5 separate regions of the Homo sapiens genome follow, and regions 1, 2, 3 and 5 are each linked to region 4. The links come from fine-mapping of genetic effects on gene expression. A gene starts in region 4. Each other region holds a variant in brackets. All regions are shown on one strand. Distances are from middle to middle.

What was found. PIP is the estimated chance that this variant, and not a neighbour inherited with it, causes the effect. A credible set is the group of variants that fine-mapping cannot tell apart.
Region 1: its variant is the best candidate, but not a certain one, in a credible set for the expression of LINC00092 in whole blood (INTERVAL, PIP 0.89).
Region 2: its variant is the best candidate, but not a certain one, in a credible set for the expression of LINC00092 in subcutaneous fat (GTEx, PIP 0.85).
Region 3: its variant is the best candidate, but not a certain one, in a credible set for the expression of LINC00092 in whole blood (TOPMed, PIP 0.64).
Region 5: its variant is the best candidate, but not a certain one, in a credible set for the expression of LINC00092 in whole blood (TOPMed, PIP 0.59).

The regions. Positions count from the first base shown.
Region 1 is chr9:96,108,822-96,115,044 of GRCh38, forward strand. LOC158434 (a long non-coding RNA gene) reads right to left here. Exons shown (of 3, transcript NR_132344.1): 2 at 5,814-5,933; 3 at 1-215. Among named protein-coding and RNA genes, the nearest start is that of LINC00092, 90 kb to the left of the region's middle. The variant C/T (reference allele first, on the strand shown) is at 3,630.
Region 2 is chr9:96,150,641-96,156,863 of GRCh38, forward strand. No RefSeq gene overlaps it. Among named protein-coding and RNA genes, the nearest start is that of HSD17B3-AS1, 93 kb to the right of the region's middle. The variant C/T (reference allele first, on the strand shown) is at 3,922.
Region 3 is chr9:95,751,262-95,757,484 of GRCh38, forward strand. No RefSeq gene overlaps it. Among named protein-coding and RNA genes, the nearest start is that of ERCC6L2, 120 kb to the right of the region's middle. The variant A/G (reference allele first, on the strand shown) is at 3,286.
Region 4 is chr9:96,018,989-96,025,211 of GRCh38, forward strand. It overlaps LINC00092 (long intergenic non-protein coding RNA 92), which reads right to left and starts at 2,823. Exons shown (of 2, transcript NR_024129.2): 1 at 2,597-2,823; 2 at 744-2,293. LOC105376159 (a long non-coding RNA gene) reads right to left here. Exons shown (of 2, transcript NR_188619.1): 2 at 4,272-6,223. It also overlaps a transcript of ERCC6L2 not described here. RefSeq lists a silencer at 2,003-2,052 and enhancers at 2,263-2,312, 3,745-4,245.
Region 5 is chr9:95,742,383-95,748,605 of GRCh38, forward strand. No RefSeq gene overlaps it. Among named protein-coding and RNA genes, the nearest start is that of ERCC6L2, 130 kb to the right of the region's middle. The variant A/G (reference allele first, on the strand shown) is at 3,176.

The DNA of each region.
Region 1 (6,223 bases), 90 kb after region 4:
CCTTATGAGAAGAGGAAAATGTAAACACAGACAGACACATAGTGAGGAGGCCGCATGATGACTGAGACTGGAATGATGCGACGACAAGCCAAGGAAGCCACGGATTGCTGGAAACCACCAGAAACTGGGAGAGACAAAGAAGAGTTCTCTCCAACAGACTTCAGAGAGAGTATGGCACTGCTGACATCTTGATTTCACACTTGTGGCCTCCAGAACTGTAAAATGGTAGATTTTTATTGTTGTAAGCCACCCAGCTTGTGACACTTTGTTATGGCAGCCCTAAAAAACGAATACAGGGGCCATTTGGTAGCATCGTCTGGTGGGTGGCTGGCTTGAAAGGAGTTTCCAGAAAGCCATCTGGAAGGGTCACCCCCATTCTGTTTCCCATTTAACATCGTTCCTTCTCCTTTTTTGTTGCACAATCTGGTTCTATGGGGAGATTACATTTCCATAAACTACTTTATCAGTTACTTCTTGAATTTGGGGAATTCTTGGTTTCTAAAAACTTCTTTTTTAAAATACATTTTAACTACCATACACAAAAATGTACAATAACCCCATCTCACTGTTTAACAAGGCAATAATTAGTCCCCAAGTTGGCATATCTTCCAAGTCCCTTATTCGAATTCTCTTTGCTTTGGTGACTGGGTTACTGCCCTATAAAACAGCCCAGCAGTGCTAAGAGCTGCAGGGTGGGGGCCAGCCAGAAGTCAGATTAACCAACACCTTTTTCCCCCATATTTGGCATATTTTTATTCTTGGCAACAGTATATAAAACACACCGTTTGCAACATTTATATTTTTCCTAACACCTAATAATTTACTCTTTTATGGTGTAAAATCTGTTGCTACAGACCTTTTTTCAATTTATTTCTCACATCTCTGTGTCTCTCTATAATATGACTAATCCCAAGACCCAGTGAAATTTAAGGTGCCTGCACCGATGCACATAATGGTGATGAGAAAGTTTCCGATCAAAGGCAGTGATGGAGTGTCTTAAACAACTAACAATAGCTGCTGCAGCTTAAAGACATCTCCGAATGCTACTTGGAAGTGATGATTATATAATGCTGAGCACTCAAAGGTCTGAGGAAACTCTGACTCATTTTGCACTGCTAAGGATGTTGGACTGCAAGAAGAAGTATAAGAAAAAAAGGGGGGGAGGGGAGAAGGGAGGGGAGGATGCCCCCAAAGATTGACTATTTAGAAGACCATTCGCACTTCTGCTCCATATCTGCTGTACTTCTCTTTTGTTATTTTGTTTTTTGGTTTTTTTGTTTGTTTGTTGTTTTTGGAGACAGGGCTTCACTCCATTGCCCAGGCAAGAGTACAGTGATGCAATCACAGCTGACTGCATCTTCAACTTCCCAGGCTCAAGTGATCCTCCCGCCTCAGCCTCCTTAGTAGCTGGGACCACAGGCACATGCCACCACACCTGGATAATTTTTTAAAGATTTTTTTTGCAGAGACAGGGTCTCGTCATGTTGCCCAGCCTGTTCTCCAACTCCTGGCCTCAAGTGATCCTCCTGCCTCGGCTTCCCAAAGTGCTGGGATTACAGGTGTGAGCAACCGTGCCCACCTCTCCTGTACTTCTTAGGGGAATGGGCAACATGCACACAAGGAAAAATGACGTCCAAAGAAAAGGCAAAACCTGACAGTAAAATGAGTGCTCTAGATGCCCAAGAGTGACATCCAAAGAAAAGGCAAAACCTGACAGTGAAATGAGTGCTCTAGACGCCCAAGAGCGACGTCCAAAGAAAAGGCAAAACCTGACAGTGAAATGAGTGCTGTAGATGCCCAAGAGCATGCAAGGTGCTCACACACCGTGCAAGGTGTGTGAGACTCTGTGTGTGTGTACTTCACTGTATGTTGTCTGTGTGTGTTTATCACTAGCATTTGAGCATGGCTAGAAGGCGCAGAGTCTTCTCATCCAACTTCTTTCTCAGGATCACCACCCTGGCTTTCCCTACCCCTTCCTTTTCCACCTAGTCTGTGGCAACATAGAGCACCCCTTAGTTAGTAACCTATCAGACTCTCCCTCAGTGCCATTCAGCCACCAATTTTGGTCCTATGACTTACAAATCTAAGAAAACATGTTCTAATATGTCTCCATGGGACTTGCATGGCTTTGATTTGTAAAAATTATCGTTTGTGTTTCCTTGGGCATGCATCCAGAACCGGGACACCCTGCCAGGGGTAAGATTTCCACTTCCCATTATTCTTCCACCGTGTCCCTCTTCTGTTAGAGTCTTGGAGGCCTAAACCCATAATGGGTTGAAATTCTCCTCTGATTCCTAAAAGGCTAAGAACAACCTGGAATATTTTGTAGATAACATGGAAGAAAGACCTTGACTATTTTGTAGATAATATGGAAGCTTAGTTTTTGTTTTGTTTTGTTTTTTAATTATCTGGCAATGGTGGACAAGACTGATTAAAGTGAGAAGAAGAAACTGGAGGCAGACAGAAGAATGTGGAGGAGCCTGTGGCTGTAACCGGAGCAGGGAGCAGGAACAGCACGAACGAAGTCAGCCTGTGGAAGCAGAAAGTGAGGGGAATTCTGCACAGAGACAACCGTCAAGTCTGTGCCTGCTGGACATTGGGAGCCACAGAGAGGCAGGAGCAGGCGACAGCGTGGAGCTGCGAGCCTGGCCAGCAGAAAGCGAATTGAAAAATGTTCCTAAAGGTGACATAAGCTTGCATTTGAAAAGCACCTCCGAAAGCTTCCCAGCCTCAAAGCCAGAATCGCCTTCTGATGCAGTTAGGCACCACAAGAGCTTCCCCACAAGAGCTTAGTGTCCGTTTCAGCAGTGTCCATTTCTTAGCCACAAGAGCTAAGCATGTGTTTCAAAGCCCTGGAGGGATGTAAGCAGCACAATCGGGTGACTCTAAGGTCAGCCCTTTGGGAACCAGGAAAGACACCCACGTATTTGTTTCTTTGGCAGCAGCCTCTCTCCCCAGGTTCTGGGTAAGCGCCATAGCAGAAGCTCAGGGCACCCTGACTTCTCGATGTGGAGAAGGTGTCCACCTCTTCTCCCAGACATGTCTTGAGCAGACAGACAAGGCCCCCTGTTTCACAAAGTGGATTTCATGGCAGTGACATAAATAAAGAGCCTGAGGATGGGATTGTGCTACTTGCCAAACTTCAGTCCTGTCTCTTTGCTGCGCGTGATAATCTGCCCTTCCTGCTAGACCTGCTTAGGTCAGACTTGGAAGTGAGAAATGAATGGAGAACGCCCGTTTCCCAGCCACCTCGCGCTCCTGCCTTTTTTGCCCACCTTCTGTCCTGGATTCCTTTCCCTTCTCTAGATTCAAGAATCAAGAGTTGATTCAGGTCCCAGTGAAAATAACGCAGGGAGAAGCAGGCAGTCACTGTGAACTGGCTGAAATAATTGACCAGGAATTTGCATTTGGGCACAGGCTCTCTTTGGGATCTCCATCTTGTACGGTTCTCTACCCTACCCACACCCTGCACCACTGGACTGGCCTAGAAGTTCTTTTCTTAGTCGTGCTACATGTCATCAAAACTGAACAAAGGAGTAAGACACTGGGGAAAATACCTCTTTGTTGCCTCCCGGCACCCCCTTCCTCATCTGACCAAAATGTTACCTTTACCTGCCAATGTTGGTCAG[C/T]CAGACACCTGAATGGGAATTTAAGTATGAAATTCAGAGCCTTCTGATTAAACCAGTAAAGTCTAAACAAGTCACAGACTCAAAAGACAGCTAAGCTCTCCACCGTGCCAGCCGAGTAGGCAACATGGGAGGTGGCCACTCAAATGAATGTGCCTCACCTATGCCAGACTAGACAATGCCTTGAACACCAGCATCCCAGGGGAATAATAGGCCCTTGGTACATACATAGTCAGCCTTAAAAATGAACTTTCCCTGCCGGACAATGGTGGCTCACACCTGTAATCCCAGCACTTTGGGATTTGCGAAAGCAGGAGGATCACTTGAGGCCAGGAGTTGACAAGCCTGGGCAATATAGAGAGACCTTGTCTCTATAAAAAAAAAATTAAAAATTATAAAATTATAAATTATTTTTAAAAATGATTACGTTTTCCACTGCCAGTTAAATGAAATGCTTAGCCTTACCTGTTTCCTTTCCCTTCTTAAAATGCAAGTGCCTTTAGGAAAATGACTACTTATCTAAATCTTTCTCACTTTAGTGTGAAATAATTTGTTAGATAACTTTCCAATATGATTGCCAGCCAAGAACAGGCCCCAAGAGGACAAGGCAGAGGACAAGGAGATTGACTGCAAGCAGGGAAACAAGCATAGATGACAGTGAGGTCATCCTACAGAACCTGCTGCCTGGGACGCCACCAATGGCACTCTCAGTGGACACTCACACCATCATTGGTCCTTGCTGCCCTCCGCTGGGAGCCTGTCTCCACTGTCACCTCCATGAGTTCTCTATGTCACTTCTTCAGGAGCCCACCATCTGAATGGGAGGACCTGGCAGAACTGGCTCCACTTCCTGTCCCCACTTCCAGAAGACAGGTGGTTAGAAGATTCATCTGCACACAGTGGGAAACAGGGCCAGACCCCCGCAGATCTTGGCATTTCCTCCAAAGAGACAGGCTGCCCAGTGTGGCTGCAAAACACAGCAAATGTCCCCTAGAGTAGGTAAAATTGGAGAACGTATTAGAGTCCTTGGGCCTCAGGCATATTAAATCTTTTTACATGGCTGGGCGAGGTGACTCATGCTTATAATCCCAGCACTTCAGGAGGCCAAGGCAGGAGGATCTCTTAAGCCCAGAAGTTTGAGATCAGCCTGGGCAACATACAAAAGATGAAAAAATTAGCTGGGCATGGTGGCACACACCTGTAATCCCAGCTCCTTCAGAGGCTGAGATCAGTTGAGCCTGGGAAGTCGAGGCTGCAGTGAGCTGTGATCGCACACTGCACTCACTCCAGCCTGGGTGACAGAGGGAGGCCCTGTCTAAAATAAATAAATAAATCTATCTTTTTACTTGTTAGTTCATTTAATTTGCACAGCTCTGGGGAGAGTTCATTACCTCCAGCTTTATGGATCTCCAAGACTAAAGAGATGGAGTAACTTGCTCAAGGTCCCACAGTTAGAAGGCCATGAACAGAGATTCCAGGGTGTAGCTGGTGGCTCCAAAGCCCATGCCCTTCCCAGCCAGCTTCCCCTGGCATCTGAGGGGTGGCCTGGGCATCAGGTGTCTGTCTATAGAGGAGGGTCTTGGAGACGGTGTCTTAGTGGGTGATGGTTGCCATAACAAACTACCACAGCCTGGGTGGCTGCCGCAGAACTTATTTTCTCACATGCCTGGAGCTTTGCCGAGATCAAGGTGTTGGCAGGATTGATTTTTTTCTGATGCCTGTCTCCTTGACTGGCAGAGGGCCGTCTTCTCCCTGTGTCTTTGCATGGTCTTTCCTCTGCACATGTCTGCGTCCTAGTTCCCTTTTCTTACAAGGACATCCATCATATTGGATCAGGACCCACCCTAATGACCTCATTAACATAATTGCCTCTTTAAAGGCCTTATCTCCAAATACAGTCTTATTCTGAAGTACTAAAGGGTTAGGATTTGTTTTTGTCTTTGTTTTTGTTTTTGTTTTGAGACAGAGTCTCACTCTGTCACCCAGCCTGGAATGCGGTGGCACAATCACAGCTCATTGTAGCCTCCAACTCCTGGGCTCGAGCAATCCTCCTGCCTCAGCCTCCTGAGTAGCTGGGACTACAGGCATCCACCACCATGCCTGGCTAATTTCTTTTATTGTGGACATGGGGTCTCACTGTGTTGCCCAGGCTGGTCTTGAACCCCTGGCCTCAAGCAATCCTCTCACCTCTCAAAGTGCAGGGATGACAGATGTGAGCCATCACACCAGGACTTTAACGCAGGAATCAGGAGCAGCTGGAGGACAATTCATCCCGAAACGGAAGGGACACCAGTCAGGGAATTATTTCTGACAGGAGATGATAGGGAGAGCAGTGATGAGGCCCAAACAGATAAGCCCTGCGCCCCCACTTCCCAGGTCTGATGAATGATGCCCCACCTGCCTTCACCTTCATCCAGACTACTGCTGGTTTAGTCTTTATTTTCAGCCTCGTTAACCCCAAGGCAAGGGTGTCATTTTTCGATTCTCAATGTAACTTCTCTGCTCCGGGTTAAATTATCCTTCAATCAATGGTGTTTTTGCCCATTTTGCATAGCAAGATTCCGTGTAGTTCTGGCCTCTAAACTGCCAGACCTATG
Region 2 (6,223 bases), 130 kb after region 4:
AGCTGACTCACATGCTACATTTACTTCTTACACGGTAACCCACCGTGGCACCCGTCCCATTGATCTGCTTCAGGCACCAGCATCTTCTGCGGAATCTGGTGCTGACTAAGCTAGCTACCAAAGCATATTGTACGGCCCCACTGGTTTCTTGGAAATGGACTTTTGTTTCCACTGCAGATCTGAAAACAGTGACCACAGGAGCACCCTGCCCGGTGACGGTGCTGAGAGGTCACTGTTATCACACTATAAATATTAAGCTTTAAAATGTCACTGCTGGGTACAAACCTCTGGTCTGATAGAGGAAATAAGACCTGCTGTTTGATAGATCAGTAGGGTGACTACAGTCCACAATAATCTAGATACATTTCCATATAGCTAGAAGAGACTAATTCAAATGTTTCTGGCATCAAGGAAAAATACATATTTAAGGCATGGATATTCCAAGTACACTGATTCGATCTGTATGAATTACACAAATATATAAAATTACCACTTGTATCCCTAAAATATGCATGTCTTATGCATCAATTTAAAAACAAAAAATCAGATACAATTTTAACTACTAAAGTTCTTAAATGAAAACTGAAACATGATTTAAATTCTTAAATAAGGCCAGGTGCAGTGGCTCAAGGCTGTAATCCCTACCCTTTGGGAGGCCCAGGGTGGATCACTAGGTCAGGAGTTCGAGACCAGGCTGGCCAACATGGTGAAATCCCATTTCTACTAAAATACAAAAATTAGCTGGACATGGTGGTGCACGCCTGTAATCCCAGCTACTCTTGAGGCTGAGGCAGGAGACTCGCTTGAACCAGGGAGGCGGGGGCTGCAGTGAGCCAAGATCATGCCACTGCACTCCAGCCTAGGCAACAGGGCAACACTCTGTCTAAAAAAACAAAACAAAACAAAACAAAAAAATTCTTAAATGAAATTTCAGATGTATCCATGAAACCCAGAAGTTCTAAGCTGGCAATATTTGTCTTTGGTCAAATATCAGTTTACACACTTGTACATTCGACATTGGGTCACACTGTGTATTTTGAGCACACGTCTGAGAAGAATATTTATTCCCAAAGCATGGTCAGAGCACAGCAGGCACTCCAGTAGGGTGCTCAGTGGTATTTGCTGAACAAATGATTCCATCAGCCAATCCTATATTGCTGAGCATTTAAGTTGTTTGCAATCTTTGGTCTTATACAGTATCTTGCAATGAGCTTTCTTAATTAGAAAGCAACCCTATTTAATAATCCCCTTGAAAAATGTTTTAAGTGGTAGAATTATGGCATCAAAAGGTCTGAACGTTTTTGTGGTTTTTTATACCTATTATTGTGTCTTCCAGAAAATCCTAGTTATATAATCAGCAATGAATTAATGTTTTTCCCCACACTCTTGTCAGACCCTGGGTATTTTTTCAAAGGTCTCTGCCAATGTCATAGGGAAACACTGTATCTTCTTTTTATCATTTTGCATTTCTTTGGTTTGTGAATAAATAACAAAAATTGCACAGGGTCATAATGACCATTCATCACTAATTCTTCAGTTGAGCCCCTGGTGAAGTAATTGGGCTGCAGGTAAGAGGCACGAGGTATGAACCATACCGAACTTTAAAGTTTAGAGTGACACTTGGCACGGTGAGACCCTCACACTATAAGGGATGGGAACTGAGATTCTCAGGAGCTTTAAAGTTTAGAGCCACACCGCCGGGCGCGGTGGCTCATGCCTGTAATCCCAGCATTTTGGGAGGCCGAGGCAGGCAAATCACGAGATCAGGAGATCGAGACCATCCTGGCCAACATGGTGAAACTCCGTCTCTACTAAAATACGAAAAATTAGCCAGGCGTGGTGGCTTGCGCCTATAGTCCCAGCTACTCGCTTGAACCTGGAGGCGGAGGTTGCAGTGAGCCAAGATGGTGTCATTGCACTCCAGCCTGGTGACAGAGCAAGACTCTGTCTCAAAAACAAAACAAAACAAACAAAACTTTAGAATCACACTTGGCATGGTGAAACTCTCACACTATGAGGGGTGGGAATTGAGATTCTCAGGGGCTTTAAAGTTTAGAATAACACTTGGCATGGTGAGACTCTCACACTATGAGTGGGAGGGAACTGAGATTCTCAGGAGCTTTGAAGTTTAGAAGCACACCTGGAATGGTGAGACCCTCACACTATGAGGGGGTGGGAACCAAGATTCTTTGGGGAACAGCAGCTGCTCAGTCCCCACATACAAGTTTGTTGAGTGCAAGATGAATAAACACAGAGACTTTCAAGTTGCCTTGATTGAACGGGACAGGTAAACACGTGGGAACTGCCCACGTTTTTGACTTTGTCTCTTCCCTAGCTCTTCCCTTGCCCACTATGGAGAGTCAAATTTGCAAGCTGTGACCATACCCCTGATGTGACTGATCTGTGACACTCACAGAGCTGCCGCTGGGGGTCATGGATACCATGCTTCTCCATTTGTTCTTTGACACAGTCTTGCCGGGTAGGCAACAACTCTGTGCCGCACAGGCCCGAGGTCCAAGGCTAGAGAGTGGCAGCACTGGAATCCACATCCCGCTCTGCCTGATGCTAAACTTCCACTCTCTTATTTCCCATGCCACGTGGTGTGCTCATATCGAGGCTCAGTGCCTGGCTATTCCTGTGGCCTTTCACCTACCTTGGCCATAATGAAAAGCCCATGCTTCTCTCCAACCTGGGTTCCAAAACAGCTGCTGAAACTAATTAATTTTTTTTTTTTTGAGACGGAGTCTCACTCTGTCTCCCAGGCTGGAGTGCAGTGGCACCATCTTGACTCACTGCAACCTCCACCCCCTGGGTTCAAGTGATTCTCCTGCCTCAGCCTCCCAAGTAGCTGGGATTACAGGCGCCTACCACCGCACCCTGTTACTTTTTGTATTTTTAGTAGAGAAGGGGTTTCACCGTCTTTGCCAGGCTGGTCTTGAACTCCTGACCTCATGATCCACCTGCCTCGGCCTCCCAAAGTGCTGAGATTACAGGCCTGAGCCACCGCACCCGGCCTAATTAATTATTTTTATAACTGTCACAGAACACCTGATTTTCCCCCCTCCTCCCCACTGTTGTAGGGCAGAGAAGAACAGGTGGGGTGGTCAGGGAATAAAGGAGGAATTCGAATTCTTAGTCCGAGGAATCACAGCACATTTTTTTTTTTTTTTTTTTGTGACAGGGTCTCGCTCTGTCACCCAGGCTGGCGTGCAGTGGCGCGATTTCGGCTCACTGCAAGCTCCGCCTCCTGGGTTCATGCCATTCTCCTGCCCCAGCCTCCCGAGTAGCTGGGACTACAGGTGCCCGCCACCATGCCCAGCTAATTTTTTGTATTTTTTTTAGTAGAGACGGGTTTCACCGTGTTAGCCAGGAGGGTCTCGATCTCCTGACCTCGTGATCCACCGCCTTGGCCTCCCAAAGGGCTGGGATTACAGGCGTGAGCCACTGCGCCCGGCCCTCACAGCGCATTTCCAAGGCAAACACTCAAGCTGCTGGTTCTCAGGCTCTCCTTTGGCTTTAGCTTTGCCGTGTCTCCCTTACCAAGGTTCCCAGCCACCACCAAGGGAGGTGCCACAGCCACGTGTCGTGGCAGAGCCTGGCCCAAGCTATATGTTCCTGTTCCCACTTGAAAACGTTTGAAAGCGTGAAACCATTTCTTCTTGCCCGGTGGGACTCTTCCTGACTCCAGAACAGACTCGGCCCCTTGGGTTAGTGTCCCTGTGATGTCGATCCTTCTGTGGGGATCTTTGGCATGCACCAGAACCTTGCAATTCGAGTCACTGTCATTGAAAAGCTCTGGTCTACAGACTGAAGGACAGCCTGCCTCACCAGCTCTACACGAGAATTCCCATCTTCCAGGGATAAGAAAGTGAGCAGGCCTTGTCCAATCTCCAGTGAGTAATACAACAAGACAGAGATTAA[C/T]TTTATATACTAATTTCTTAGGTTAGATAGAGAGGAAAAGGACACTCCACACCTGATGACCTGCATTCTAATGCCAGAAAAGGCACTTTTAATCAGATGACCTCAGAAAATGTCCTTAACATTCCAGGACAGTTATTCTTGTGAGGATGACCTAGAATAGATGTGTCCGGGCCCATGAAAATTATGAAACCTCGGCTGCGCGCAGTGGGTCACACCTGCGATCACAGCACTTTGGGAGGCCGAGGCAGGTGGATCACGAGGTCAAGAAATCGAGACCATCCTGGCCAACATGGTGAAACCATGCCTCTACTAAAAAATACAAAAATTAGCTGGGTGTGGTGGCACACACCTGTAGTCCCAGCTACTCAGGAGGCTGAGGCAGGAACATCGCTCAAACCCAGGTGTCTGAGGTAGCAGTGAGCCGAGATCACGCCACTGTACTCCAGCCTGGCGACAGAGGGAGACTCCGTCTCAAAAAAAAAAAGAAAGAAAGAAAGAAAGAAAGAAAGAAAGAAAGAAAGAAAGAAAGAAAGAAAAGCAAAAGAAAAAAATTTTTTTTTTGAGACGGAGTCTCGCTCTGTCACCCAGGCTAGAGTGCAGTGGCACGATCTCGGCTCACTGCAAGCTCCGCCTCCCGGGTTCACGCCATTCTCCTGCCTCAGCCTCCCGAATAGCTGGGACTACAGGCGCCTGCCACCGTGCCTGGCTAATTTTTTTTTGTATTTTTAGTAGTGACGGGGTTTCACCGTGTTAGCCAGGATGGTCTCAATCTCCTGACCTCGTGATCCGACCGCCTCGGCCTCCCAAAGTGCTGGGATTACAGGCTTGAGCCACCGCGCCCGGCTAAGAAAAAGAAAATTCTGAAACCTCATTCAAGTGCAAGTTATGGACAGGCTCAATGGCTCACCCCTAAGATCACAGCACTTTAGGGGGCCAAGCAAGGCAGGAGGATTCCTTGAGAGCCCAGAAGTTCAAGACAAACCTGGGGAACATAGAGAGGCCCCATCTTTACAAAAATTTAAGAATAAAAAATTAGCCAGGCATGGTGGTACATGCCTGTAGTCCTAGCTACTCTGGAGGCTGAGGCAGGAGGATCCTTGAGCCCAAGAGTCCAGGGCTGGAGTGAGCTATAGTTGTGCCACTGTGCTCCAGCCTGGGCAACACAGTGAGACCCTGATCCAAAATAAAAACAAATGCAAGTTATAGATTAGTGTTACTCATAATAGCACTTTTCACCATCTAACATACTGTATATTTGACTTATTTATTCTGTTTCTTTTCCTACCCCCACAACTTTCCAACCTTCCCACTCATTACCAATGTAGCCTATAAAATTTTATTCTCTGGAGAACTTTGAGAGAAGGACAGGTAGGTCTCTGTCAAACCAGGCTAGTGATGATACTACCTGGAGGACAAGGGTAGAACCAAGGAACTCTAATCGTTACTTTGAGTCCTAATTCTGTGATTTCAGTCTCTCTACTCAGGGTCAGTCCCAGGGTAACAGGCTAGTCACAATGTTGAGATCAGCGTTCTGAGGCTGACTTCCTTTAAAAATGTATAAAACTCTGCTCCAGAATACTAAAACACTTATTACAGCCTGAGCCCCTCCTCACCTGCCTTGAGAAAAACATTGCATTTATTGAACATAGATTAAGCTACAGGCTGCTCCACATCCATGAGGCCCCGAGTCTGCCCAGGACTTTCCTAAACTGCCTTCAACTTGACGGTTCTGCCAGCCTTTCCAGGATGGGGTGACTAGCCACCCCCAGAATCCAGGCCAGCAACATTTAGTCAGCATTCAGCTTGTACATTCTGTCCCCTCCTTCCTCCCTCTGGGAGAACATATGGTGAGAGCTGCTTTCTTTGGAGCAAATCCTTAAGGAAAAACAGACTTTTCATCTTTTTTTTTTCTTAAGTTCCAGTAAACCCTTTTACTGATTTCTAGGGAAATCACTTTAGAGCTTAATTGTGCATTTCCCATCAGAGTCATCACTTCTGTTACTGGAGAAAATGCAACCCACAAGAGGTTTTTGAGGCGGCAGGGAGTGTGGGCTGGGTGCGCAGGTGCATGTATGTGCATATGCATGTGCACAGATGTGTATGCACACACCAACGTACACAGTGCACCTACCCATCACTGAAAGCACTGCTCATGAATAGTCCATTTCCTCTTCCAGAATTGGCCAAATCACGCCATTGTTGACAGCCCAGCTAGGCAGCGCCTGATGACATTTTTGGCCCTGGAAATGACAGGTGTTGATGACCCTAGCCTTCCTCTGGGCCTCTGATGCTAAGAGAGCTC
Region 3 (6,223 bases), 270 kb before region 4:
GACCAGTTCTGACCAATGTGTACAAATGTGCTCTGTCCACAACCAAGGCGTGTGCGGGCTCTGCAGTGGTGTCTGTGAGTCGGGATGCTCAGCAGCAGAGGGAGGGGAGGGAGGAGAGGGATAGAGCCTGAGCTGTGGGAGAGAGAGGATGCAGGGACAGAGCCTGAGCTGCCTGATGGAGGGGGAGGGCAGGGATGGAGCCTGAACGCGGGAGGGAGGGAGGGGAAGGATGGAGCCTGAGCTGCAGGAGGGAGGGAGGGGAGGGATGGGGCCTGAGCTGTGGGAGGGAGGGAGGGGAGGGATGGAGCCTGAGCTGTGGAAGGGAGGGAGGGAGGGGAGGGATGGAGTCTGAGCTGCAAGAGGGAGGATGGGAGGGAGGGATGGAGCCTGAGCTGCATGAGGGAGGGAGGGAGGGAGGAGAGGGATGGAGCCTGAGCTGCGGAAGGGAAGGAAGGAGGGGAGGGATGGAGCCTGAGCTGCGGGAGGTAGGGAGGGAGGAAGGGAGGGAGGGGAGGGATGGAGCCTGAGCTGCAGGAGGGAGGGAGGGGAGGGATGGGGCCTGAGCCACAGGAGGGAGGATGGGAGGGAGGGAGGGAGCCTGAGCTGCGGGAGAGAGGGGAGCGATGGAGCCTGAGCTGCGAGAGGGAGGGAGGGGAGGGATGGGGCCTGAGCTGCAGGAGGGAGGGAGAAGAGGGATGCGGGGAGGGAGGGAGCCTGAGCTCCGGGAGGGAGGGAGGGAGGGAGGGCGCAGTGCGCCTTCGCACAGCCAGGTAGCAGGGAAGGGGCCGCATTAAACATTGAAAAATGCGACTAACTTGTTCATCCTGTGCCAAAGACATCACCCCCTTCTCAGATGCGTGGGGCACGTCACGCACGATCTGCCCCCCCTCCCGCTGCCCTCTCAGTGTCCCGTCCTCTTACAGACGGGAGCCTCCCGGCGCGGGTTGGGAGCGAGCAGGGAGAGTGGCGCCAGCGCAGGAGGTCCCCAGGCCGGGTCCTCCTCACACCCAGGCGAGGGGAGCGCAGGAGCGACCTGCGGGGGCCCCGGGAGGCAGAGCGGCGCCTCCGGGGAGAAGGTCCCGCAGAGCTGTGGGGGGGCAGGGGACTGCCCGGGAGGAGCCCAGCGAGGCGGAGACCAGCAGGACCGACCCAGGGAGCTCAGTGGGGGCGGCCAGGTCAGCCCGCGGGGGCTGCCATAGAGGCCTCAAAAGGAGGGCCCTCAGCGGGTGGGGGGGTCAGGCCCTGCCAAGGACTGTCTTCCCGACCTTCAAGCAAGACACCCCGGGGCAGGGACTGCCAGGCGCGGGGGGTCAGGCCAAGTCTAGTGACTCCTTCGTGCCCCTCTCTGGTGTGGCGGAGAAGAAAGAAGGAGGGAAGCAGCCAGAAACAGCGCGGAGCGGGACTGGGTCCCACCTGGAGACCCTCGGAGCTAATTTCCGCTCAGGAGGAGGCAGGGGCAGCGGCTCCTGCCCTGAAATCTTGCTTCGGCCGCTGGGCCACCGCCAGCAAGTCCCTCACCCAGGACAACTGCGAGCATTGAAAGGGAGGATGCACCTGCCGCCCCCAGGCAATGGCTACATAGTAGCCGTTATTATTATTTTGAGTTTGGGATTTAAAAAACCCATTCCATAATTATCCAAATACATACCATCTTTTCAACTCAGTTTTGGATTCAGGGAGTGGGGAATGATTTGTAGTCAGAGAACCTTCGGGAGAGTGCTTTGGAAACAGTCTTGGGCCAGGCCCAGGCCCTGCATTTGTAAAATGGAGATAATATCAGGACCTACCTCCTATATATTTGCTGCGACTAAGGAAAATAATGCAGATTTTAGCACAGTGCCTTTCACATAGAAAGTGCTCAAAAATACTAGCCGCATTATAGCTAATCACAGCATCATCACCATAGTCTTTTAAAAATTTTTCACCGTGAAGTTATTATTTAAAAATCTTTTTCAAATTTTATGATCATTGATTACCATTTCCCCCCCACCCTATGAGATAAATTAATCAGGATTTTATTGGCTGATGAAAAATGTTTACCACCGGTCTATTCTGCGTAGCTTTACTAGACTGTTCTAGTGTTGTCAAACCTCTACTGTCCTATTCGGATACTTCAGGACGTTGTTTTTTAGTTAATGTATATATAGACTCTCAACACCCTGGCTCTTAACTGGGGTTGATTTTACTACCCAGGCAATATCTGGAGACATTTCTGTCACAACTGGAGAGGGGGTTGCTAATGGCATCTTGTAGGTGATGGCCGGGATGATGTTAAATCTAAAACGCACAGTACAGCCCACCACAAGAGAGACTAGCCCAAAATGTCAATAGTGGCGAGATGGAGAAACTGCCCTGACATCTCTTTCTCCTGCGGTCTCTCCTAAAGAAACGCCAAGGGAACCAAGGTCTGATGTCTCTGTGGTCCATTGCATTGGGAACTATTTCTGAGAAAAGCAAGTTGTGGGGACCTGCAAAGCTGTTTTTAGCACAGAACAAAATCACAGAGGACCAAAGCCCTAGAAACCCTGCCTCCTTCCCACTGGGCGTATCCCTCTGGCTTCCGTCTCCTGGCAGGGTTTGTGCAAAGCCGCAGCTAGAGCAACATTTTGTTATAATCAAACCTCCAAAAGAATCCGTGGAGCACTGTGGCCCATCTGCAAAGGCCAGAAGGGGGAAGGGATTGTGTTTGGGGGCTGATTATGCTGACCTTTCAACCCTTCTTGGCAATGTTTGCTGGCCAGAAAGCAAAGCCAGCTGTAACTTGGACAGTGCTTTACACAAACAGACAACACAGACTGTTATCTCCTAAATTGGAGGCTTTCTGCAATGTCTTCTCATGTGGGCACTGGGCTCAGGCAGGAAGACCACCCACAGGCAAACACACAGCACCTCCCAGGGAGGCCTGGAATCACCCACCGCTCTCACCACCTGTTCTGGGGCCTAGCTATCAGATGGGAAGGAGCCAGTTAATAACTGTTTATAAGCTATAAATGGAAGTGGCCATGGCAGGGAGCTGATAAACATTTGGGGGCCAATTATTTGTGTAGCTGACTGTCATTTGCACCCGCTCTCAACTGCTTGCAGTATGTGTTTCAGGTTACAGGACGTCCAAATGGCTGTTTGTGGGGAGGGGTGTCTACTGAAGGGCTGTGTCTGTGGTCTTGATCCAGACCACAGATAATGAGAGCTGCCTTGGACATTTTCAGCCTTCCTAGGCATCAGATCTTTCTCCTTAACTCTGCTTAGGGGTCAAAAGAAAATTCTAAAGGTAGGAGGCCCTAAAGT[A/G]TTTCATGTACTTTGGAATCTCAAATCTCCGTTTTGTTGGAAATGTATGGACAGAGTGTTCGGCTCTGAGCTGTTTAAAGTGAGCTTTTATGTGCTGCACTTGTTAGTTTATAATGTGACGTGTTTTTTCCTGTGAAAAAGAAGGTGAGTATAGGGATGCTACATTTAAACCATCAACTGACAGCCTGAGGCTACTGCAGATCCAGAACTGTGATTGCGGGGGCTGGCAGAAGCAGCATGTCGGGAACTCAATGTGGTGGCGATTGAATTGCCTTATGACCTTGGGTTGGCAGCTATTGGATTAAAAGGCTCAAAGGAGAAATTTGGAAATGAAAATCATGTGCGGAACAGGGGATAAGGACCTTGACATTTAAATAACAAAAGTGACACCACACTGGTTCTCTCACCTGGTTAGTGCGGAGCGGGCAGGGGCAGCTGGTCCGGCCCTGCGTCCCAGTGTGAAGGAATTTCTGCCTTTGTCTTCCCAGGGAAGCCAAAGCTTGGAACTGGGTACAACCAGTTTCTAGTGCCTCTGAGTGTCTAGTGCTGGGTCCGGGGATCACTAATTTCAGGCAGTGTCTGGGTGTAGGAATTGGCTGCAGGCAGGGGCCTACAGGAGTCCAGTTCCAGATTCACTGCGCTCCTACTAGGTTATGTGATCTTCACCAAGAATCTGAAATTCTCTGTTGCCCACGTCCTTATTTGACACCAGGGATGTTTATGGCTCAAGGCACTGCTGGAAGCTACAGAATTTTGGCATACAAACCACCCTCAGGGGATTCATGCTTGCCCCGGAGATAAACCTTATCTCTGACAAGATTATCTACTAGTCAAGGCCACATAGGAAAAGCCAGCAGTGCTACAGGGAATAAACGGTGCCAGGGTTTAGTCAAGGGAGGGACGGGGGTCTGGAGAGAGCATGAAGGCTTCAAGGAGGAGATTTGACTTGAGAAAGGCCACCTTGAATGGTAACCTGCAGGTGAACAGCATGGCCAGGTGCTCAGCAGCAGGTGTTCACAGTGGCTTTCCAAGGGACAATCCATTTACCTGTCCTAAAGGAACAGGAAGGAGTTGTGCACGTTAACCTTGGGGAGGCAGGTTGTGATCAGATTGTGAGGGGCTTGAGTCCTCGGTGAGGAGCTCAGTCTCTCCCTTGTCATGTCTTATGAGGAAGTACTGGAAAGCAGTGATTCCAGGCAGGTGGGTCTGGTGAAAAGGTAAGATGCTCAAGATAGAGACTGCTGCTGATCCAGGCATAAGGGTGGGCAGCTCAGAGGCAGCTGGACTACACAGCGGGGTCCTGGGGGACTGCAGAGATCCTAGAGAAAGAGCCAAGGGACTCAGTGAGGAGAATCAGCAGGACCAGGCCCAACCCTGAGCAACTGGGAAGGCACAGCACCTTCCACAGAAGCTAGCAAGGCCTGAATAATGAAAGGAAGGCTTCGTTTCATACACCTTGAATTTGGGGCAAAACATTCCAATAGAAATGCCCAGTTAGAAGTTGGAAAGGCAGAACTGGAGTTGAAAAGTGTTTCTGCTTCTCTGTGCCCCTACTAGATTGCTAGCACTTCAAGGGCAACAGGAATGTCCCAGGATGGGATGAGCATTAGAGCGGGCATCAATCATAAAATACATCATTAGCTATCACTTTCCGAAGGCTTGCTCTTGTTAAGCCACAGGCCTGCAACAGCAGGATTACGATAGCTGTTATGCCCAATTTTCAGGTCCAGAAACTGAGGTTCAGAGAAGTTAGGAAATTTATCCAAGATCACACAGCTTCTAAGTGGTTGAATTGGGATTTGAATTCAGGTCTAGCTGTTGCTAAAGGCCATGACTTTCCCTTTCTCCCTCACATCCTCTCTTGGCCTTTTAATGCAGGAATTCTTTCATACTGAACTTTTGCTTCTCTAGAACTTACACAATGTCTTGGGTCAGGTTTTTGATATGTGTGTTTTATTAATCCTTTTTTCTGCTACCAAATTTCTTACAAACAAATATCCAGATTTTATTAGCCAACTATTTTAAAAAGTAAAACAAAAACAACAACAAAAATCTTTGCCTCTTTTTCTTAAAAGTATGCAAATTCAAGACATCAAATTCATCATTCTTTATCAAGTTAAAAAATTACACTGTGTTTTATTTGGCAAAGCAAAGGGAATTTCTGAAAGACAAGAGACAATATAAATTTACTCCTTGTCTTTATTAGGAAGTATTTATCTAGAAGTTTTTGTTAACAGAACCGTTTGGAAAAACTTTTCACATTTTCTGAAAGCAAAACTTCTGGGCCTCTCTTCGATGTAGCTCTCAGGCCAAATTAATCCTTATACATGTAAAAACATTATTTACATATTTGGGAAGGAAAACACACAGATTATGCAAGGTCTCAAAGTAGCTAAAAGTCAGAATTTAAAGTTAGTATTTACCGCTTCTATTCTTAAACTCATGCCAGAGCCAAGCTACATCCCATATAGTTTCAGGGGAAAATGCAATCAGAAACCTAGCTATGGCGATTTTTACAGCGTTGAAGTTTTTGCCAAATTTGGGTTCTGAAAGGAATTTCCCTACAGGGCCTTTTGGCAGAGACCTTGCATTTTTTTCAGCTTTCCCCAGGAGTCCTTAGCTGGGATCCTCTATTGTATAATCTGTTTCCTTCAACCATTCCTGCTCTCCTCTTTACTCTGAATCATGGGCACATGACGTAGTATTGGAGGAGAAAGCAGCTCTGAGAGGATATTATGACATGTCTCTCCTTTGACTACATGTTCCTTCCTCCACAGCCAATTGACAGGAGAGAAAGGGACGATCTCTATTCATTTACTGGAGAATTAGCATTTTCTGTCAATGCACCTTGCTCTTTTACCCAAGGAATTTCTGTTCACCAGAGAAAAACCCTAGACAAGGGGTCAATAGTTGGCTTGATGAAACCGCTGGCTCTGTA
Region 4 (6,223 bases):
AATAACTAAAACTCACTTTATGTTGTTTCAGTTTATCTGGCAGGGGGAAAAATGCGTGTGCAGCTCTGAATTTCTAATACGTCTCTAAGGAAACTCCAATGAGTTGTCTTGTCAGACTAAAATGTCTGGCAACTAAAATTATTGGCCTCCCTACATTTTTTAACTTTGAATTTTCTTAATTTTTTTGTAAAGTGGGATATGTTTCTGAACTGAAAGAAACTTCAAAAGAAGCCTCATAATAGCTAATTCATATTTTCTCTTCTTTCCTAAAACTATTATAAAAGCACTAATGGGAACAAAACAATTATTTTTCAAAATATAAATGCCAGGATGCACCATATGAGAAGCCCCCAGCCCCCTCTGCTTGCCTCCCAGCACCCGCATTGTGCTCCAGTGTTCAGCTTTCTCTTCCTCTCCGTCCACCACTCCCTGCCCTCTCTTCCCACTGCCAGTACCTAAGTGGCCTTCCTTCACCTGTGCCTGGCAAAGCCCTAGGTTCCTTCCATGTCACCCCTGACTCCTGAATCGACAGCTCCCTCTCTCAGCTTCCTGCTCACCAAGCTCAATGGAGCCTCAATGACCTGCCCACTGTTGCCTGAGGCAGCACTCTCACTGTCCCAAGACCCCATCACACCTTCACCTTGCTGGGACCTCCTAACTCCCTCAGCTTCCCCTACTCCACATTGGGGGTGTATCAGTCCATTCTCACGCTGCTATGAAGAAATACCCGAGAAATACCTGGGTTAATTTATAAAGCAGTTTAATTGGCTCACAGTTCCTTATAGCTGGGGAGGCCTCAGGAAGCTTACAATCATGGAGGCAGTTCACGTGAAGGGGGAAGAAAGGCACCTTTCTCACAGGGTGGTGAGAGAGAGGAAGGGGGACGGGGAAAGCCCTTTATAAAAGCATCAGATCGGCTGGGCACAGTGGCTCACGCGTGTAATCCCAGCACTTTGGGAGGCCGAGGCAGGCAGATCACAAGGTCAGGAGTTCCAGACCAGCCTAACCAACATGGTGAAACCCTTTCTCTACTAAAAATACACATTAGCCGGGCGTGATGGCGCGCACCTGTAATCCCAGCTACTCGGGAGGCTGAGGCAGGAGAATCTCTTGAACCCGGGAGGCAGAGGTTGCAGTGAACCAAGATCGCGCCACTGCACTCCAGCCTGAGTGACAGAGTGATACTCCGTTAAAAAAAAAAATCTTGTGAACTCACTGTCACGAGAGCAGCGTTCAGGAAACCACCTCCATGATTCAATTACCTCCACCTGGTCCCGCCCATGACACGTGGGGATTATTAAAATTCAAGGTGAGATTTGGGTGGGGAAACAGAGCCAAACCATATCAGGGGGCCAGGCCTTCAGCAGGTGGATAAGATGGGAGGAGTTCTGAAATACACACCCGGGATGCTCCAGAGGCCAAATCATAGGGCAGGTCATCCCAAGGACAGCAGTTAATTCACTGACATGCCAGCAAAGGGCAAACCGAATCGGCCCCGCGGAGCCCAGGTAGGGGCGCCGCTCACCTCCTAAAATGCCCTCAAAGACCCCTTAGGGCACAGCCATATGCTGAGACATGTTGGGGTGGACAAGCAGGTCTCAAGAAGCTTAGAATGTCCCCTAGGTGGACGCTAAGGGACAAGGCCCACCGAGGAAGGCAGCTGCAGATGATGGAATGCCCTCCCAATGGCGGGAACAAGCAAGGCTTCCGCAGCTCAAAAGGAGAAACATGCTTTGCGCTGGAGTCCTCAGAAAAGGCCACTTCCAAACTGTGGGGATGGGGAGTGGACGGGCCTAAGAGAATGGGAAGGCAGAACACCCCTTCTCCAGTCTCCCTTGGCCGTTAAAACCCCAGAGCAGCAGCAACGTGGGCTGTTTGGTGCGGAGGTTCCTGGTTTGGGTTGGCCAGGCGTAGAGTGCTTCCGACAATTCACCCACCCTCCAAGACGCGCGGGCCGGGGAGCGGGGAGAGGGCGGAGGGAACGGCGCACCGGGCCCCGTCGGACTGTTGGACCAAAAGTCCTCAGTGTCGGGGGCTCGCAGCGCCGCCGCGGCGAACCCAGCTAGGGGGCACCGCCTGCGCCGGGCACAGGGAGGCCGTTCGGCTTTCCCCCTCGCGCCCATTACTCTCAGGCGTCCCGGGGAACCCCGCGGGCCAAGTGTCGGGCTGCGTCCGGGCAGAGGCGGCTTCGCCTGGTGTCAGCGCGTTTCCGAAGGGCACCCGCGGCGGGGCCCACAACTCGAGCTGGGAGCCGCCCCAAGCAACCCGTTCCTCCGAATCAGGCTGCTTTTCTCTGTAAAGAAAAGAGAAAGCAAGCGATTAACTGATGGCTTGGCCGGCTGGAAACGGGAAAGCGAGTTCTCCAGGAGCCGCACACCTCGGGGAAGCCCAGTCCCTCCCGGGCAGGGAGCGAGGGGCGGTCCTGGGGGCTGCTTCCCGCGGGGAGAGAAGGGAGGGCGGCGCAGCCCTCTGCGGGGTCCGCCCCTCGGTTCTCCGGACCCCCGCGGCCTGGGGGACACGGGGCAAATTCTCGGATAGCGACGGGCAGGAAGGGGACCCGGGCTGGCGATGGGCCGAGTGCCTCCTTTGCTCTCACCCCCGCGCGAAGACGAGGCCAGTGGGCGGGTGGCGTGGGGCGAGGCCTCCGCAGGCCGCCGGGGGCCCAGGCACCTGGAGCCGGGAGGGTCCGCTCCCTTCCCCGCCCTGGATGGCGGCCTATGGGAAAGCAGTCTCCACTGGATCCCGCGCGCGTCGCGCCGAGGTCGTGGGAAACCGAGGGCGGGAGGGCGGGAGGGCGGAGGCGCCGGCAGGGTCGGCGGGACTGGGGCTCGGACGGAGGACAGGGGCGAGGAGGAGGCAGGAAGGACGCCGGGTACTGCGGGGCGCCTAGGGGGTTCCGAGCGCAGCGGCTGCGGGGCCGACCCGCCCAGGATGGAATCAGGGCCCCGGCGCCCCCACGCCGCTCCTCCAGGCCGAACCCCTGCGGCCCCAATCCCCCGGCCTCACGCCCACCCCGCAGGTCGGCCCTGCAGCTGCCTTCCCTTCCTCCACCTCCCTCCCGCCTCCGAAGCCGGCGCCCCCGGCCAAGTGGCCGCTCTCAACCTGTTACCAAGTCCTAGAGAGAATTTCTCCAAAATATTTCCTGGATCCCCCTGCCAAGGGCCCTGTCCCGCCCTTCCAGCTCCCAACTGGATGCCTGCAGACCTCTCCCCGGGTTCCGAGGCTCTGGCCTCCTCCCTCCCTAATCCATTTTCCACACCGCTTCCCCGGGAGCCCGTTAAAATACACCGGGACCGCGGCGGGTGCAAGCCTCCTGTATCTCCACATAGCAGGCTAAGGGGAATTGGGTAGGGAATAAAGGCTGCAGGGGACATCGGCTGGCAGGTATGAAGCCCGTATTGTGTGTCGTTTGTTAAACACTTCCAGTGGATTTTCTCGTTTAATCTGCCCAACAACGCTTCTGGGCCGGTATTCGTATTGTTTTATAGAGGGAGAAACTGAGGCACAGAGGGGCACTCGGCTTGTAAGCAACGGAGTAATTCAGAGCCCGTCAGCCCCACGCCGAGTTTATTCACCCTGGCAGGGGCTTCCGCGGGAGCCATGACCCTTCCTAACTGGGGTGGAAGGACCCGCAGCGCCAGCCGGGTCCGGGCCAGACGGCAGCGAGTGTCTGTTAATAGGGATGCTGAATGGGTCAGGCAGTGGGGCACAGGTTCAGTGTGATCTGGAATGCCTGCGAGGCCCCCTTGCTCATCCACCTGCCTTTAATGGATGGGTGGTCTGAGTTTCTGGAGATGGGCAAGATGGAGCAGTCTCCACACTTGGCTCTTCAGCCCCGGCGCCCCCCACAGCCGCCTCTGCTTTCCTGGAGATACCGCAGGCTCCTAACCTCAGGCCGGCTTGTGCTGCTCCACCCTCTCCCTCCCCCACAGACACAGGCCACTTAGCGCGCTCTCCCGTCCCTCACCCCTGCCAACAGCAGCCACTTCTGGCCACTTCCTTTACATGTGAATGAGTCCAGGTCTGGGCTGCCTTTGTCCGGGGAGGCCGGTGGGATTTCCATCAATAATTGTTGGTTGGTGAGTCAGGGGTCAGCAGTGGTCTCCTTTCCAGGACCCAGAAATGACACCACAAGGGTAACTGGCCACTATTTCCTGCCTAGGAACTAGCAGCATCCCACCCCCACCACTCCATGGCCTAGATAAGACAGGCCAAGACCCCAGAGACAACAGGACTCTGGAACAGGGAAGGGATTTATGATTAGCATAGGCTCTAGTTAAATTCCTTTTTTTATTTCTGTGCATTGACCTATTATGTAATATGCTTTTTTCTTCCTGGAATACAGATCCTACCAGTGGTTTTATTCCTTTTTTATATAATGTTTAATTCATCTGTCTCTGTAAATCCATCACATGAAATTGAAAGGGTCTCAAAGAGCAGACTGTTTCCCCCCTAACTCTTCCACTATTCAACCCAGGGGCAAGCACTGTCATCCCTCACTGCTACCAGCTTCTGGTCAGTCTTTCTGGCCACACGTATGTAGACATGCTTCATTCTTTTAACTGTGTTTTTGATGTTTTCTATATTAACACCAAAAAAAAGTACACTAAGAAATCAGTGCTATTTCCGAATGGAGCCCGGAGTTTCTCAGCACTGCGCTCCTCCAGTGCCAGAAGCACCCTACTTCTCTTCCTCAGTTGCTTCATCAATCACATGGGGCTGGGGCAGTGAGGAGGATGTATTTGCCTCACATAGAGACTTAAAGGTTTTCCTGATCTCCTCTGGGTACAGAACAAGAAATTAAGGATGATCTGAAATATACAGGGCTTGGATAAGACTTGAAACAATTGTGATGATAGGAATTGCTGGGTTCTGGAACCGAGGATTGCAGTAACCAGGGGCTCAGAAAGCTGAGATATCCCTCCAGTGAAAGGGGACCCGGGAGCATAACTGAACAAAAGTCATTTCTCTTCCTCATGATGGGTATTTCTCTTTTTCTGGTGAGAAGTGTCAGTATCAGCATTTATCTGCTGGAGACTGTTTAAATGTTAGGTGTACTTAGCAACGTTGCATCTATTTTTCTTAAACACGAATCACTTTCCAGAAGGGAACCGAAATGACCACCTCTAAAAGTTGCTACTAACTATTGCTCCAGAAACCAAAGTGATGCCACTCACATGGCTGGCCATAGTCTAATTTCTTCACAAACAGAGGCAGAGCAGCTTGCACCACGTAACCCCAAAGCTTTTCTGTAACTGATCAGAAGTTCCTTTCTCCACCCTTTAGCAGAGGTGCTGGTGACCAGGGAAGAGGAGAAGGTAAAGAGCAGAGTGAATGAAGGGAAGTAGGGGACATAGATTCTTTAAAGTCTGGGTAATCAATCCCAATGTATTCAAGAGAGACCTCAACTTGCTTTCCTAGATGGGACGTGGTGGCCCACGGCATCCATAGCAAACCACTCTCTTCTTGGATAGTTGGCTCCCAGACTTGAAGGCTGTGCTCCTTGCTGTCCTCGGACCTCTCCAGCGGTCTCTTTCTAGTTTCCTTGGTGGGCTCCGCCTCCTCCTCCTCACCTTGTCCCTTGGATTTCCCAGGGAGCTATCCCCAATCTAGGGTTAGTCTCATGCACCCACCATATTCTAGGGGCCCCTCCACTCACTCTCATGCTTTTAATGAATTCATTTATGGGTGATCAGGAATCTTCACCATAGCCCAATCACCCTTCTGAGTTTCAGGTGCACACCCTGTTGCTTTGGTGTGACTGCTTCCCGTTGGGTTATCCTTGGGCACCTCACACTCATTGTGTCCAAAGCAGAATTCTTCATCCTCAACTCTGCACTCATCCTATATTTGAGACTCCTAACTCAGTTAATCGCATTGCTTCAGTCATTGACCTCATAACCCAAATCTCAGCACCATCTTTTTTTATTTGGTTGGATGCTTCCATTCCTCTCAGCCACTGTATTCACTCAGTAACCAAGACTTCCAGAGTTGACCTCATAAATATTTCCTTAACTCTGATGCCTTCTTTCCAGTTTCCTACCAGTGTCCTAGTTCCTGAACCACTGGAATAGCTTCAAGTCTTTCACTTCTTAGGTCTTCTAGAGAAATTTGTCATATCTAGTAGAACTCTTTTGTTGAAAATGACGCAGACTGGTTTAAGCAAAAAAGCAAAATCATGGATGTCAGGCTGGTTTCAGGTGTGGCGTGGTGTCGAAGCTCA
Region 5 (6,223 bases), 280 kb before region 4:
ATGAGCTTTGTGTGCCAGATGTAAAAGGATGGATTATCCTGAGGGCAACAGGGAGCCAATAAGGATTTTAAAGCAGTTGACTGATATGATTCAACTTATAAACAAAAGTGTTCAATCCAGCTTTGTTTGCAATAGCAACCAATAAGGGGAAAAAAAAGCTGCCCATAATCAGAGGACAGATTCGGTCATTCATTGAATATCTATACAGTAAAATAGCACATGGGCAATAAAAATGACAGCGCATTTGATATTCATCAGCACAAAAGAATCCTTGTTGGAATTTTATTGAAATGCTTTACCCCACATTTACTACCATCATACTTTCTTTTAAACTCAGATTTAAAAATTCTGACTTTAAGTCTCAATGTGTTTAAAAATTGCATAATAAAAGTCCTGTGCAAAAGAAAAGAACCTCAAATAAAAGAATAACATAATATAAAAATAAAAGGAATAACTCCAGATCATAGTAAAGATCGGAATTTCTTCTAAGTTTATCACATTCTTAGGGCCATTCCTTATACTCTGTAGTGATAGTAATAGAAACATACAACTTTTTCCTCTTCCTTCCCAAGTTTCAGTCCCAGGATGCTATCCCTGAGACCTCTTATCTGCATTGCCTCAGCCATCCTGTGGTCGCAGTGTTTGCTCCGCATATTCTGCCCCTGCTCACGTCGCCCTTCATCCTGCCCCAGCCAGACATGCTGTCTGTACAGCCCACTGGTTCTGGCAGCCAGGAGTTTCCTAGGACCAGCAGCATCGATTGTGCTCCACTCAGATCAAGGAAAGAGTTCCCCTCAGCTCTTACCTGGCAAATAAGGTATGGATTTCCAGCTATGTTTTTCATTGGCTGGGGTTAGATTCTACTATAATCTAGATGTATCATTTGTGATAGATGAAGATCCCTTATGGGCGGTAACAGAGAAAGTTAAAAGGATGAGCATTTAAGTAAGTAGGACCTAGTACAAGAACATAATATAATCTAAATCTCAGAAAGAAGCTATGATATTTAAGAATTTAGCAATACATCTTAAGTAAAGAATATATAAAGTTTCTTAACAAATGAGGCAGCATTCCAAATGTCTTTGAAATGGCCTCGTGATATATGGTGAACCCAGATATATGTCGCATGTAGTCCAGTTTTTGCAGTCTCATTCCAAGAAAACACATTCAATTTAAGACACTTTCAAGAATGATAGAAATTTTGCTACAGATTTTCTGAAAGAAATTCATCTTTAGAAAACTTCCTGAAGATCTTCTTTGGAAATATTTCTGTTCCCCAAACTTCAGTACTCACAGTAGCTACCAGCTACCTCTCCTTTCTCTCGCCCACGCAGCTTTCTCATGGCATCCCCACTGACTTTCTCCTTCAAATGCTCTGCTTCTTTCTCCTCTGTGCCACAGTGGACAGCAGAATTGTCCCCTAGGACTTCTGTTTCCATTTGCCCCTATGCCAGACCTCTCTAGGATGGCCAGAGCATCTAGAACCACCTCATCTCCCGAGCATCCCTAGCACCCTCTGGGCAAAAGCACATGAGAGCCGCTAGGAAGCAAATCTGTTTCTCACTTCAACAGAAAACTCATGGAGCATTTTGGGGAATAAAATTCTCCACCTTGTTAACAAATCAGTAAGGAAGGATTATTCAGTAATTGATGGCTGACACTACTGGTTAACAATTTGGGAAAAAAAATATTACATTTCCTTCCCCCTGCCTAAATACATCCCAGATGGTCTGAAGAGTTTTACTTAAAATAAAAACCTAAATGAATTAGAAAAATATCAGTGGATATTCATCTAGTCACATAAAAGTCAAGAAAAAAAATCATAAAGACCTTGGCTATAACTTCATAAAAGTATACAATTCTACATGTCATAAAATGCCACATAAAGTTTTAGAAATGAAAAACTAAAGGAATATTTGCAATAGTTGCAACAGATAAATGTTCAATCTCAATTATTTAAACAGCTCTTACAAATCAATATGAAAAAGACAAACGCTTTAACAGGAAAACGGGCAAAACTGTAAATGGGCAATTCAAAGACAAATTTAAAAAGCTAATAAATATTGAAAAATAAGTGTTCAACCTTTGAAGGCCAGGCATACTCTGCCAGAAGAGGGAGGCAACGAGGTCAGTGGCTTATGGCCTCTGTGATGTGTGATGACAAAATCTTCCTGCCTCCATACATTGGATATATTTTTAGTGACAATCGTCATGATTTCATGGACCTGGGAGTTCTATTTTCTTTTTTGTTGTTGTTGTTTTTGTTTTTTCTGAGGCAGTCTGTCTCTGTCACCCAGGCTGGAGTGCAGTGGTGTGATCTTGGCTCAGTGTAACTTCTGCCTCCCAGGTTCAAGTGACTCAAGTGCCTCAGCCTCCTGAGTAGCTGGGATTACAGGCACCTGCCACCACGTCTGGCTAATTTTTGTATTTTTTAGTAGAGACGGGGTTTTGCCATGTTGGCCAGGCTGGTCTTCAACTCCTGACCTCAGGTGATCCTTCCGCCTCGGCCTCCCAAAGTGCTGGGATTACAGGCATGAGCCACCATGCCTGGCCAGTTCTGCTTTCTTTAAATCACTGTACATTGTATACACTCTTAACGGTTACGAAAATATGAAAATCCTTAAACGATCCAGGTGATTTAACAGAATACCTAAGCAACTTGTAGTTAGCGCTAAGCCCATGAACTTGGTAGACAGCAACTTATTTGGCCTTCAGAGCATCTGGTGTGTGAGTGTGAGTGTTTCTCAATAACTAACGTGATTCTGAGGTTTGCATTTATTTGTTCACCCCTCTAGGTGGACAGCCTGACTGTTATTTCCCTTATATCTCATTGTAGGTGGACTGGAACCATTTCTAAAGAGATCAGGAAGTATCAGGGAATGGGATCTATTCAGTCTTTCGGTTACCTGTAAGTTGAAGCTGAAAGTCAGCCTTGCTATCCATGGAACCTGCATCTACATATCCAGGTACTTTTTGCCTACTAAATCCTCTTCTCATTTCATGGAACTCAGCCTATCCCTGGGCTGCCTTTTGAAGCTTCTATTACTGGCTAACACAAGTGGTAGTCAGCCCAACTTTTGATCAATATCTTAGAATATTTTGCCACTGTTCTCAGTAAATGAAGTGATGTTTTCTCTTTTCATTAGCAATGAAAAGATAATCCATGTTGTTTCTA[A/G]TAAAATCGATATTGAAGCTACATACGTGAAAAATATTTATAGCAATTTAGGAAATACATCACATGAAAACATTTTCGCTCTGGTTATAAAAAGGTCTTGAATTGACTTAATGAGGCCAAATATGGAAACCATGCCTTGGGCCTTCAAAAACTTTCTCTGGTCTTGAGAAAGCTCCTTGGCTGTAGTTTGAAACAGGCCTGGGGATTAGTCGAGCTTTCCCCAGGGCTCTGGGCATTACAAGCGAGTGCTGGTGGCAGGTGTCTGCACTTCCATGATTATCATGTTCCATCAGATGCTTTTGCTGTCTCACTGGGAATATGAACTCCCTGGCACTTGCCCTTCTCAATGACACCAGTGGCACCTGCAACTTTACTGGAGAGCTTTCTCTACCTACAAAAACATGCCGAGGTCACACTTGGGAAGTGGAAGTGCCAGGCATTTATCATCTCCTCAGCCAATAATAAAGAGGAATTGGAGGATAAATACCCCAACAGCCTCACCTTGGGTAGGACAACTCAGAGGCACATTTGGTACGGTCTCCTAGAGGTCCCCAGCAGGATTGAACCCCATATCCTGAACAGCGATCTGTTGACTGTAGGCGGCCCTCTCCCCATAGTCTTCACTTACCCCCTCTCCTGCTAGTGGTTCCTGAGATTAGTTCACAAATGAGCTTCTTGCACATGAACCTGTGTCTCAAAATCAGCTTCTGGGGGAACCCAACCTACTGCAATGTTGCTTAATAGTTGTTGTTTTTAATTTTATTGACACCATTGTCCATTGCAACCCATGTGATGTCCCTTAGGTTAGTCTGAGTCTCTTGGTCTGTCTAACATACCACTGACATTAGGTTCCATGTCAGCGAGTATACCTAGCCATTTATTATAGGTCCAGGCAGCTACCAGAGCTGAATTAGGTGAATAGGAAAAAGAATACCCAACCCTCACTACTACAACAGGACTATGATATGATCTCACTGAACTCTTGATCCTCTGCCCCAACCCCCCCGAAAAAATCCTGCTCCTCCTAGAGCTTCCCCCATCTGAGTAAACAGCAACCCCCAGCATCCAACTGTACAAGCTACACCCTTGGCCTTCTGCGTGACCCTTTTCTGGCTCTCACATATTTTACTGGACTTATCAGTGAATCCTGATGTCTCTGCCATCAAAATACAGATGCTCCCCAATTTACAATGGGATTATGTCCCAGCAATCCCATCATAAATTGAAAACATCATTAAGTCAAAAAATTATGTATTATACCTAACCTACCAAACATCAGAGCTTAGCCTGGCCTGCCTTAAACATGCTCAGAACACTTAGGTTAGCCTGCAGTTGGGCAGAGTCATCTAACACAAAGCCTTTATTGTTTTTTTTTTTTTTTACAATAAAGTGTCGACTGTCTCATGCAATTTGTTAAGTACTGTACTGGAGGTGGAAAACAAAAGGGCTGTATAGGGCCTGACATCCACAGCTGAAATCACAAAGGGCCTGAAGGATATGGGACACATTGAACTACAGTTAATTGGATGATGGGGATGCTACTGTGACAGGGTCATCCATGTCTGTCTTCTGATGAGCCTCAACAATACCTGGTAGCAGGCCCTGGGGCATCCACACTTGTCCATGGCTTGGCCGGCATGGACTTCTTCAGGAAGATCTCTAGTCTTGGTCAGGTTTAAAATGTAAAATAGCGAGACAGAGTACAAACTGTGAGGGGTAATATCTTTTCATTAAGCGTAGACTTTACTTCATTCATGAAATATTTTACTGAACGGGAGTCATATCTTTCAGTTGAAATGATTTTTCTGCTTTAGTAAATTACATGAGATATTCAACACTTGGTTATAAAGTGATGGTGATCGTGGTTGCGTGGCCGACTGGGAGCTGAGGCCCACTGCTGCACCCAGCGTCTCGAGTGTCATACTGCATATCGCTAGTCCAGGAAAAGATCAGAATTCAAAATGTGTACTGTGATTTCAACTGAATGTGTATCTGTTTTGCACCATTGTAAAGTTAAAAAAAATCATAAATCAAGCCATCGTTAGTCGGGAACCATCTGTATATCCAAAATACAACCACTTTTCATGGCCTCCTCTTCTATTCTTTGGTCCAAGCCAGGATCCTCTCACCTGGACTATTGCAAGAGCCCCCTGTTGATCTCCCTGCTCCCACCCTCATCCCTCTATGGTCTAATCAGTGGTTGGTAAACTTCCTCTGTAAAGAGCCAGATATTTCAGGTTGGTGCAATTATTTTCGCACCAACATAATAGTATGTATTTCAGGCTTTGCTAGCCTTATGGTTTCTGTTGCAGTTACCCAGCTTTGCCCTCACAGCACATAGACAGCCACAGAAAATAAATAAGCAAATGGACATTGAAGTTTGAATTTCACGTCGTTTTCATGTACCACAAAGTATTACTCTGTTTTGACTTCTTATCAACTATTTAAAAATGTAAGAAACACTTTTGGCTGGGTGAGGGGGCTCACTCCTATAATCCCAGCACTTTGAGAGGCTGAGGTGGGTGGACTGCTTGAATCTAGGAGTTCGAGAACAGCCTGGGCAACATAGGGAGACCCATCTCTACAAAAAATACAAAAAAACTAGCCAAGTGTGGTGGTGCACGCCTGTAGCCCCAGCTACTCGGGGGACGCTAAGGTGGGAGGATCACCTAAACCCGGGGAGGAGATTGTGCCACTGTACTCCAGCCTGGGCAACAGAGTGAGACCCTGTCTCAAAAAAACAAACTCCAAAACTCACTTTTCTCTCCAAAACCCACTCTTTTGTTCAGGCTGCACAAAATCAGGCTGAGGGCCAGATTTGGCCCACAGACTGTATTTTGCCTGCATCCGCCGGTCTAATACCTAGAGACAGTCCAGTCCTCCTAACACCTGCAGGACAATGGCATTCCTCCATAACCAACCTTCCCATCGCTGCTCACCTCCCTCAGCTTAGCAAGAAGAGTCCTCCAGGGCTCCTGTTTGCCACTTCCCTGCTCTGCTGGTCTCCACAGCACTTAACACCTCCGACCCTACTGTCTGTTTTACCTG